Linked DNA regions of Homo sapiens. The protein of the gene in region 1 purifies or fractionates together with the protein of each later gene. This does not show direct contact. Each region holds a gene or a part of one and is shown on either strand. Other genes may lie near its edges.

Region 1 (2,992 bases):
ATATGTTTTTAAAGCAATTATTGTAGTAATTTCATTTGAGTTAAATTTACATGCTCGGTCACTCATTGAGAAAATTTACACAGACTCTGAATCCAGTTCCTGTCATCTTCAGATGTTGGTTTATTGACATCACAGTAAAAAGGCTACTGTCGACTGGACACAGTGGCTCACACATGTAATCACAGCACTTTGGGGGGCCAAGGTGGGTGGATTGCTTAAGCCCAGGAGTTCAAGACCAGCCTGGGCAACATGGCTAAACCCCATCTCTACAAAAAAAATTAGCTGGGTGTGGTGGTACATACCTGTAGTCCCAGCTACTCAGAAGGCTGAGGTGGGAGGTTCACTTGAACCTGGGAGGTTGAGGTTGCAGTGAGCACAGATCACACCACTGCACTCCAGCCTGGGCAACAGAGTGAGACCCTATTTCAAAAAAAGGCTGCTTTCACTGTACTGCTGCAGCAGTCTCTTCAGGTAGCTAAATTAGGAGCTTGTTTTGGAGAAATGAAGCAAAGGTGAATGACAGCCTAGGCTTGAAATTATAAAGCTCTCTCAGGTTGAACTCTCTCGTGCGCTCTCGCTCTCACTTTCGCCCTGTACCTGAGAGCACAGGTGTAACTGTGATGTCATAGTGCCGAGACTACTTTCCTTTAACCATTGGGGTTAAGTTGGGCAGCCCATTTAGTTTACACGCGCATAAGACTAATTTACAAAATCACTCTATACAGTCATTAGATGTAACATCCTTCCCTGAGTAGAAAGTAATGCATGTGTTTGGAGATTATTTTCTGTAATGCTGGGAACAAACCTGTTTTAAAAGCACACTGCTAAAAGTAGGTGATATAAGACCATTTGCTGTTTTTATTAAAGTATGTGTGTGTATCAGTGTCTCAATGTGAAGATTGTAACCTCAAGATTAGGAATCTTAAAAGAGCCACTTAGCCTGAATGGGAAACGTGAGACTATTTTTAAACACACACCTCTAAGGAAGAAGCCTCCCATATAGACTTGATCTCAAAGAAGCAGATAAGAAGACAGAAAAGTGTTTTAAGTGTAAGATCTCCTATGGAGTACTTTAAATTCATTTATACAAATGAATAAGTGTATCTTTGTATAATGCATAAATACATAGATAAAAACATGTTTGCTGCCAAAGTTCCCAATAAGATGCTTCCTGTGTTTTTTGGCCTTTACTTAGCTGAATGATCAAAGTTCAGAAAATGGTCTGCAAAAGTTACTCCATATACAACCCCAAATCTACTACTTTAAATGTAACATCAACTCAGTTGTATGAATCTGGAGTGTAATATTTATATTAGAATGTATATGTCATTTAAAATATTTTGAAAGCCCTCATAAATATTTATATTTACTAAACTAATAGCATAGACACTATATAAATCCGCAGTGATGCTTATATATCTTAAATTAGTAATAATGGGTGCTATATAATTATTTTCAGTTACTATCCCTGACACTCTGGAATCTTCTCCATTTCTCCCTATCACTCAATTTCATTTTAATCATTGGACACCTTTGCGTTTTGCTGCTAACAGTGTGTGTATGTCACCCTCTTTATATCTGGTTTTCCCACTTGTCTGAAGCTCTCCTGATCTTAGAACCTGGAGCTGCAGATTCCTCCATGTCAGCTCCCATCACGGCCCCAAAGACAGAGTCACTTGGTTGCTGAGTCACTTGGTTGCTGGAAAAATCTTTGGGGAAAGCTGGTATAAGCTACACACTGACCTGTCCCCAGTGTTTCCAGGTAATGACTTGGCACTCCAGAGAAAGTTTCATGCTGTTGCGTGTGGTGGCTCCAAGCCAAGCACCTGGCATGCAGGTCAGCCCTTCCCAGCGGGCGTGGCGTCGTCCTCTTCACAGATGCCACGTTGCAGCCCCAAGGCCTCACCATTTTGCGTTTTTTAGAAACCCATTTTCTTGGTCATTTATAAAGCTGCTTTATAGATATCTTTGATCCTGGCATGCCTTGGTTTCCTCTCCCTTCCCTCTTTCCAATCCTGGTTTCCTAACCTCCTCTTGTAGTAATTCTCAACTCAACTCAAAGTCCCAAGAATTTGGAATGGTAGGATGCTGTGCGGGGAGCTCGAGGCTGAGGCATAATCACTGCTTCGGTTCTGCTCATCAGGGGACACGCTCCCTTACTCATGGCAGCCATGTTTGATTGTCACAGAGCCCCCCGAATACTCTGTCTATAGTGACACACTGTAGGTGTCATAAATTTTAAGAAACCTGCTTTTAAGTACTATTTATAGGTTTTTCTGTTATACTTGCAACCTAGTTTTAAAATACATGAGGATTTTATGAAAGCTTTATACAGACATTTATAGGAAACTCATTCTTTGATTTTAGGTGCCATTTAAATTGATAACACTTACTTTATAAAAAGATGCTTTTTGTCTGGATAGAGCCTTATAGTTTAAAATATCTTCATATATTGCCATTTGATCAAATAAATTTCTTACTTAGAAAATGTGTGTATTTTTTATTTCATTCCTCTTACATATATCTAGCTTGTTCGAATGTCATGCCCAAAGGCCAAGGTTGTGGGGATGGGCCTGGTGCAGGCCATTGTATTCTGAGCAGACCAGCAGGGGCGGTGCTTGTGGGTCGGTCATACCTGACTTCAAAGGTCCTGCCATCTTGGCTGCTTTGACTGTGAAAAAAAAAAATGGCCAGAAGGCAGTGTAGACAGTGTTGACTAGATGCAGCAATGGAGAAGCCTTCAGAGTTTTATTGATGGGACTTAGTGGGCTTCAGCTTTTTTTCTATTGCATCTGAACATTCACTCCCTTCTAGTTTCCTAAGATTCAACAATATGAGGAGTCACATGAAGGAGTCAGAAAACCTCCCTGGATCTGTTCTGTGGTGGATGAGGGGGACAGTCTTTCTATTCTTTGAGAAACCCACGTTTTCTCCCATCAGCTGTCCTAGATATTGGAATGGAAACTTGACAGCCCATCTTTTGGCCTTGAGT
Region 2 (3,656 bases), on another chromosome or scaffold:
GTGCCTTAGCCTCCCAAGTAACTGGGATCACAGGTGCACACCTAGCTAATTTTTGTATTTCTAGTAGAGACGGGGTTTTGCTATGTTGGTTAGGCTGGCCTTGAACTCCTGGCCTCAGGTGATCCACCCACCTCGGTCTCCCAAAGTGCTGGGATTATAGGCATGAGCCACTGTGCCCGACCATGGAACATTTCTTACTTATCTGGCCACACTTGCTCTGAGGTCTGCAATGAGACTGACTAGTGAGATTGTGTCACCATCCCTCCTCACTGCTGCATCTCCTGGTTGTATTTTTCTTGGGGCATTTGCCACTCTTTAAAACCATCTTCTTTACTCATTGGTGCACCAGCTTATCTGCCTCCCTCCCCAAAGGGTGTCAGATCCACAAAAAGGCAAGAGCAAACAGTGTCTGTCTTGTTTAGGGCCATGTCCCAGCACTTAGAACAGTGCCTGGCACATTGTAGGTGCTCAGTAAATCCTTGTGTGAGGAATGACTGCACCTGCCCCTCTTTGCAGCCTCCTGTTAAATGAGTCTGTGATGTTGAGTGATGGATCCTGGGAGAATTACGAGCTTGCCCTCTTGAGTCTCTGGAGGGATCTCTGGCTTACCATACTGAGTGCTGGAAGGAGCATGGCCTTGCTGACAGCTGGATTTCAAACTTGTAGCCTACAGAACTGTGAGAGAATCTAAGCCATCCAGTGTGTGGTGCTCAACTAGCCCATGGCCAACCAGAGTTTGAAACCCAGTAGCTCAGCTCCCAGCATTCACTGCACTCTTACAATACACTTTTCTCAGGTTGGGCATGTCTCTGAAAGACTGATGGGAGAGCCGGGCGTGGTGGCTCACACCTGTAATCCCAGTACTGAGGGAGGCCAAGATAGTCAGACCACTTGAGCCCAGGAGTTCAAGACCAGCCTGGGCAACATGGCAAAAACCCGTCTTTACCAAAATAAAAAATAAACAAAATTAGCTGGGTGTTGTGGTGCATGCCTGTAGTCCCAACTACTTGGGAGACTGAGGTGGGAGGATTGCTTGAGCCCAGGAGGTCGAGGCTGCAGTGAGCCATGATTGTGCCACTGTACTCCAACCTCGGTGAAACAGTGAGACCATGTCTCAAAAAAAAAAAAAAAAAAAGACTTGGGGTCCAACCAAAGGAAAGAGGGATTGCAGGAGTTGTCTGCTGGGAGTTGGGCATATTCCCTCCTGTGTTTTAGAGAGGGGACAGCCAGGGCACATCAGGCAGGCCAGATATCCTCAGCTCCTGATAAGACACAAAAGCCTGCAGGGATACAGTAGAGTTGTAGGGAGAATGGGCTTCTGAACCACACTAGGCATGTCCACACCACAGGGCCTTTACACATGCTGGGGAACAGGTAGAGGAAACAGCGCATGCAAAGGCCCTGTGGTGGGGACATGCCTAGCTTGGTTCAGGAGCCCATTCATTCATTCATTCAAAAATATTCACTGAGTACCTGCTGGGCACCAGCTATGGCTGGGATACAGCCATGAACGAGAGAGACCAATGCCTTGCTCTCCTGGGGCTCCTGGTCTATTAACATCCCAGCTCAAATGTGGCCTCCTCCACACTGCCCTATCACAATCACTTCACCCTGCTTTATTCTCTTTATGACATTTTCCACTCTCTGAGATTTCCTGCCCTTGTCATTTGCTCACCTCTCTGTTCCCCCAACTCCATCCCGAACTCCTATGCCCAGAGCCTGAGTGTGTCTTGATCATGGTTGCCCCTCCAGCACACAGCAAAGTCCCTGGTCCAGAGGAACTGCTTAAGAAACATCTGTTGAACAACCAAATGGATGGCTGCATGGTGAGGGAAGCTCTCCTGGAAGGTGGAGACCCAAAGTCCCAAGTGAAAGAGGGATTACATCTGTGCACAACCCTCTTCAGTGTACCAGCTTTTCACTGCTGCCTTAAGAACATCATGAAGAAAGTAGTGGGGACAGCTCTAGTTAGCAGCAGCTCCATTTCCTGTATGAAGAAACTGAGGCTAGAGAGGTTAGGACACATGGCCCAGGTTGCATAGGGAATGGGTGACTTTCTCCAGCACACCTCAGTCCCTTGGGTGGGCAGGCAGTGGCAGCAGGTGACGTCCCACCCAGGGGACCTCACATCCTCCACCTCCCCAGCCCCCAGTCTTTCAGTCCTAGGCAAATCCACCTTCTCTCAGACGTACAACTTTCCCCATTCCCTCCTCCATGGGAGTCCCCTGCCCTCTGAGCCTGGCCAGATCCACTCCCAAGGTCCCCTAAGTACTCAGAGTCTCCGGAGAGCCACAGCACTCCGTGCCTATCCCCATGTGGAGCTTCCTGGGAGGCCGGAGGGGAAGGAGCTGAGGCCCAGGAGGGAGGAGTGGCAGGAGAGGACAAAACCCAGTCCCTAGACTCACAGGAAGTACAGTGGAGGCTGCCTCTCAGCCTGCTAGGTCAGCCCCTATAAGTGACACAAACCTTCCAGTGCAGGATGAGCTGAACCTGGGGCCTGGGAGGGTGGGGGTGGGGGTGTCCCAAGGGAAGCCACCTCCCCTAAGAGCCAGAGCTTAGTGATTAAGCGGGCACTACAGAGAATGACCTCCCTCTGAATGTGGTCTGGTGGAAGCTGGGGGTCCCCAGGGGGGCCTCAGGGCCAACCCCTGCTGCAGCCTCCTCGCCATGCTGTCTGCATCTGTATTTATCCCCGTAATGGCCTGGCTGCCTGTTGGAGTGTGGTGTCTTTGGAGCACAGCAGCCGGTGCCGTAGCCTCGGTGCAGAAATGATTTGTGTCAAGGTGCCGCCCCCACCTGGTCAGGAGTGCCAGCCTGCTCCCCGGGGGCTGCCTGTCGCCTGGCAGGAGCTGGTGCAGCAATGGGCATGCGGCAAGGGCCCCAGAGAATAAGGCTTGTGGCTGGACCCTGCCCACCAGAACCAGGATGCAGGATGTTGGGGCAGCCAGGCTGTGGCCAGGGTTCCTGTGTGGCTGGAAAGTGGGGCCAGATAAACTCTAAAGTCTTTTAGCTCTGAGACTCAAAGAACTCATGACTCTGAAATCCCAGAATTCCCAAATTCTGGAATTCTGTGAACCTCTAGTCCCGGGCCTCTACAATTCCAAGATGTTATGGTTCCTCTTCCTCTCACCTTTTCACTCTTCCTCATTTTCAACAAACTTGTGTCGAGCTTCCATTCTGTGCCTCTGGGTGTTGGGAGCAACGAAATGGAAACAGGGTTTGGTTCCATCTTTAAGCTCCAGTGAGGGCGACGCTTCTAAGCCAATGGTTACAGTATGCTGATATTGTAAGTGATTCCCTCTCAAGGACCAGGGAAATAGGAAGGGCTTTGTAGAGGAGTCCCTGGATTATTGGTTTTGGTGTTTTTTGTTTTTTGTTTTACCACATTGAAGTGTAACATGAAATAGAGCAGACATTCTACATGGACCAGTCAATGACTGTTCACAAACCAACATATCTGGGTCACCAGAACCCAGATCAGAAACAGACACGACCAGCACCAAAGCCCCCGGTGTCCCCTTCTTGTCAGTAACACCCGTCCACGTGTCCTACTGCTATCCTGACTTCCAGCAGCATAGATTTGTTTTGTCCATGTTTAAGGGCACCTAAGTGAAATCATATAGGATGACATACTCCTTTCTCTCTGGCCCCCTTCA
Region 3 (3,656 bases), on another chromosome or scaffold:
CAGGTTATGTCCAATTTCCTATACCTTCTGTATCTTCAGCTCTGGACAGTGATCACTAAAGGTCACCAACCAAAACAAGAAGTGAAACAAACAAAAGGGGGCTTTCTGCTTAACTCAGTTTCCTAAAATATTCAATTTACCAGAAAAGCTCCTCTAATCTTTCTGTTTAATTTATATTTCAATGCACCTTTAAGTAGGAGGCAACAAGAAAGTGTTTAAAGGAAAGGAGAGACTATATCCTCTACTCTGCTGTTTGATTCCCCTTTGTGCATCACAGCACAAGGTTGGAAAAACTGTAGTAGAAAGAGCACTAAACTGGAACTCAGGGGACTTGACTTTTAGACCTTGTTTTACTAATTTCTTGTTTTGTGGCCCTAGGCAAAGGGGTTAAGTTTTTTGTACTCTCATCAGCAAAATGAGAATAATAATCCTTCTAATAAATTAGCACTATTAGTGCCCAAAATGACCATAGAAGGGGATGCTGAGTGACCTGCATAGAAAGGGTGTTCCAAAGGTGTCAGACTGAGGCTAGGGCAAATACAAGAACATTTGGCAGACTCTCCCACACACCAGCAAGCTTTCTTAAGTTTTTAGTGGCAGAGTCACTGCTGGCCCATTTATTCATTAACCCCCCATAAGGGATGGCAATAACATACATGGGAAATCGAAAAGAACTTGATAAATGCAAGATGGTGGTGGTCATAGTGCTTATTTATATAAAGTGACATGATATCCATCATGTGTCTATCAACGTGTGGCATGTAATAGTAAGTGGTAGCTCTCTACCTCTCCTTCAAATTACTCAATGGATGTTTCATCTGTGTAGCTGTAACCTCTGAGTTGTTAATCTCTAATTCAGGGAAATTAATTAAACATTATATCAATAGGTGCTATTCTGAGACATAGCTAGCTTGTCCATAAATGATTGAATTGACTATTTAATTGCCTACTTGACCTGTTTATGGACTCTTGCCCTTGTTTTCGTAATTCAGGGGCTTAAACACCTAGCTTAGCCCAGGTGGCTTTTGAAGGTTTCCCTAATGCCTCCCTCCCCAGAACCATGGCTCCTACTAATAATAAGGACCACATTGTAGTCCTGACCCATTTAGGTCCTTTGGCCTGTGATGGTTATTGCGGTTTCCAGAGGCTGATAACATGCTGAGCCTGTTTTATCCTCTACTAAGCTGTCTGTGTCCTTTTGCCCCAGAATGCCGAGTCATGAAGGGAAACCCATCAGCCACAGCTGGCCCAAAGGCATCCCCAACACCTCAGAAGACTTCAGCCAAGAGCCCTGGTCCTATGCGCCGAAGCAAGTCTCCAGCTGACTCAGGTAACGACCAAGACGGTGAGTGCTCTTTTCCTAACTGTGCACGCTGACTTCATTTATGGAGGACAATACTTTCTGCATGCAGAGGAATCAGTTCCTCATGAACACCACTGTGTCTCCATGAAACCCTATTCTATCAATTCAGGGACTAAAACAGTCAAACTTGTTTGGAGTCATGGAGGCACAGCTACAACCATTATTCCATTCAAATGGATGCAAACCAGAAGCCTGGCCCATTGTCTATGCTTGCTGTAATGTTTATTTTCATGGTTGTCATCATTTTCATCATCTTCAACATCATGTGGCAAAAACATATTCAATGGAATAATCAAATTAACCATAAACCTGAAATTAAAAATCAGAATCAAGAAAAAGAATATAAAAAACAACACCCCAAAGTGTCAACATAGTTGACTCACTTGAGCTTCAAATTTGACTCTGAAGTAATTAGAAGCCAAAACAAAAAGGGAAACAAGTACACTACATATATATGCCATATAAATAGGGGGACAAGATAAATTGTATAAACCTCACAACCGGAAAGTAAAGCACAGACCAGGTTCTAAAAGAAAACAAAGAGATTTGCCATAGAAGATTCTATTTAGTGGATAGTGAGTTATCTAAAACATGTCGTCTATTGATCACTGCCAACCCATGAACTATTTATTACCAGTCAGTCTGTGGCAAGATTAGGAGCTTGTGCCAAATGTAAATAAACTATGCCATTAAGCAAACCATTTAGCTCAGCTGCCTTTTTTTCAGAGCCTGATTTTATTGATGAAGGCAGCAGTATGTTGATTTGCATTCTGATGTGAACCCTATCTTGTCTTGGACCCACAGTTTGAGTGACACTGATCTAAGAGGCAATGTCTTCCATTCTTTTATAACAAATATCAAAAATAAAAGGCCTTAGAAGTCCAAGTTCAGAAGCTTAGATTTATGCACAATTTGAGGTTCTTCACACTAAGGAAACTATATGGTCCAAAATACTTATACATTTGTCATCCCAAGGCTCAGAATTTATCATGAGAATTCTTGCAGTCTGAGAGCCTTGGGAAAACAAAAGGGCCCTTCAGTTTGGGGCATCATGAGTAGCCTGATGGCTATGAAATGCTGGTGCCAAGATGAATAGCCTGTACTGCCTGCATCAGACTGCCAGGAGCATGCATATTACCAGCCATCTCTTTATTCTTGGGTTGAGGAAATTAAAGTATGAAAAGGCAACCCAGGCTTTTAGTACTTCCATGTCTTTGCACTCCCTGTTCCCCCATACCTGGAATGCCATCCTCTAACCCATCAGCCTTTTTTGCTTGAAAACTCCTATTCATCCTTCAAGACCTCACATAGAGATAATTGTTCCAGTCTCTGCAATACCATAGCATGCCATTCATATCTTTGGGGTAATATTCACCACACTGTGTTGTCAAGTATGTGTTTACCTGTCTACTTCCCCAATTAAATGCTGAGCCCCTCAAAGGTAATGTGGTAGGTTCATTTTCATATCATCAGTGCAGAGCATAGTGCCTGGCCCCTAGTAGATGCTCCAGTAATATTTGTGAATAAATAGATGCACAACAGTACCTATTTTACCCAACATGGTGCTAGAGACCAATCAAGCATTTAGATAATGTTTGCTGAAGAAATAAAAAATACATGTGCCTTGATGCTATCTTGTTCAAATGTACAGAAGAGCACATAAATCTATATCTAAGCAAATTTATATTGCTGAAACTACAAAGACCTAGGTTTTAACACCTGGGCTGAGAATAAAATTTGACAGTTTTTAAGCAGAGAATTGCAAAAAATACACTTTAAAACACTTGGTCAAGATTAATAAAGTCTGGCAATAATTGCTTAGCTAATCATTTCTCAGAAACAGCAGTAGCTATTTCTGGGATTTCTAACCTGTATTACTTGTATCCTGCTGTGAAACAAATTCATTACCCCAAAACTTAGTGGCTTAAAGAAAAGGCATTTTTTTTTTATCTCACAGTTTTGGTGGGCAAGAAATTCTAGAGTGTTTTATCTAGGTGGTTCTGGCTCAGAGTCTCTCATGTGGGTATCATTAAAATATTAGTAGGGGCTGCAGTCATCTGAAGGCTCAACTGGGGCTGTAGGATCCACTTACAATATGGCTGTTGGCAAGATCTCCTACCTTAGTTTGTGATCCAAGAGAATGAATAAAGAACAAGATGTATTGCCTTTTGTGATCTAGTCTCCATAGCCAACACTGTCACTTCTCCTTTATTATATTCATTGGAAGCAGTCACTAAGTCCAACCTACATTCAAAGAGAGAGGAACCAGACTCTATTTATTAAAGGAAAGAGT

The links.
Region 2: the proteins of POPDC1 (region 1) and CPNE2 purify together in Homo sapiens (affinity purification with mass spectrometry; one large-scale study listed by BioGRID and IntAct). This does not show direct contact.
Region 3: the proteins of POPDC1 (region 1) and DCX purify together in Homo sapiens (affinity purification with mass spectrometry; one large-scale study listed by BioGRID and IntAct). This does not show direct contact.

What each region holds. Positions count from the first base shown.
Region 1 is NC_000006.12:105,096,318-105,099,309, reverse strand, and holds the end of POPDC1 (popeye domain-containing protein 1), read left to right. Parts: 3' UTR 1-2,488; downstream 2,489-2,992. UniProt on the Homo sapiens protein: Cell adhesion molecule involved in the establishment and/or maintenance of cell integrity. Involved in the formation and regulation of the tight junction (TJ) paracellular permeability barrier in epithelial cells.
Region 2 is NC_000016.10:57,095,583-57,099,238, forward strand, and holds part of CPNE2 (copine-2), read left to right. Parts: intron 1-3,656.
Region 3 is NC_000023.11:111,328,593-111,332,248, reverse strand, and holds part of DCX (neuronal migration protein doublecortin), read left to right. Parts: intron 1-1,207; coding exon 1,208-1,345; intron 1,346-3,656. UniProt on the Homo sapiens protein: Microtubule-associated protein required for initial steps of neuronal dispersion and cortex lamination during cerebral cortex development. May act by competing with the putative neuronal protein kinase DCLK1 in binding to a target protein.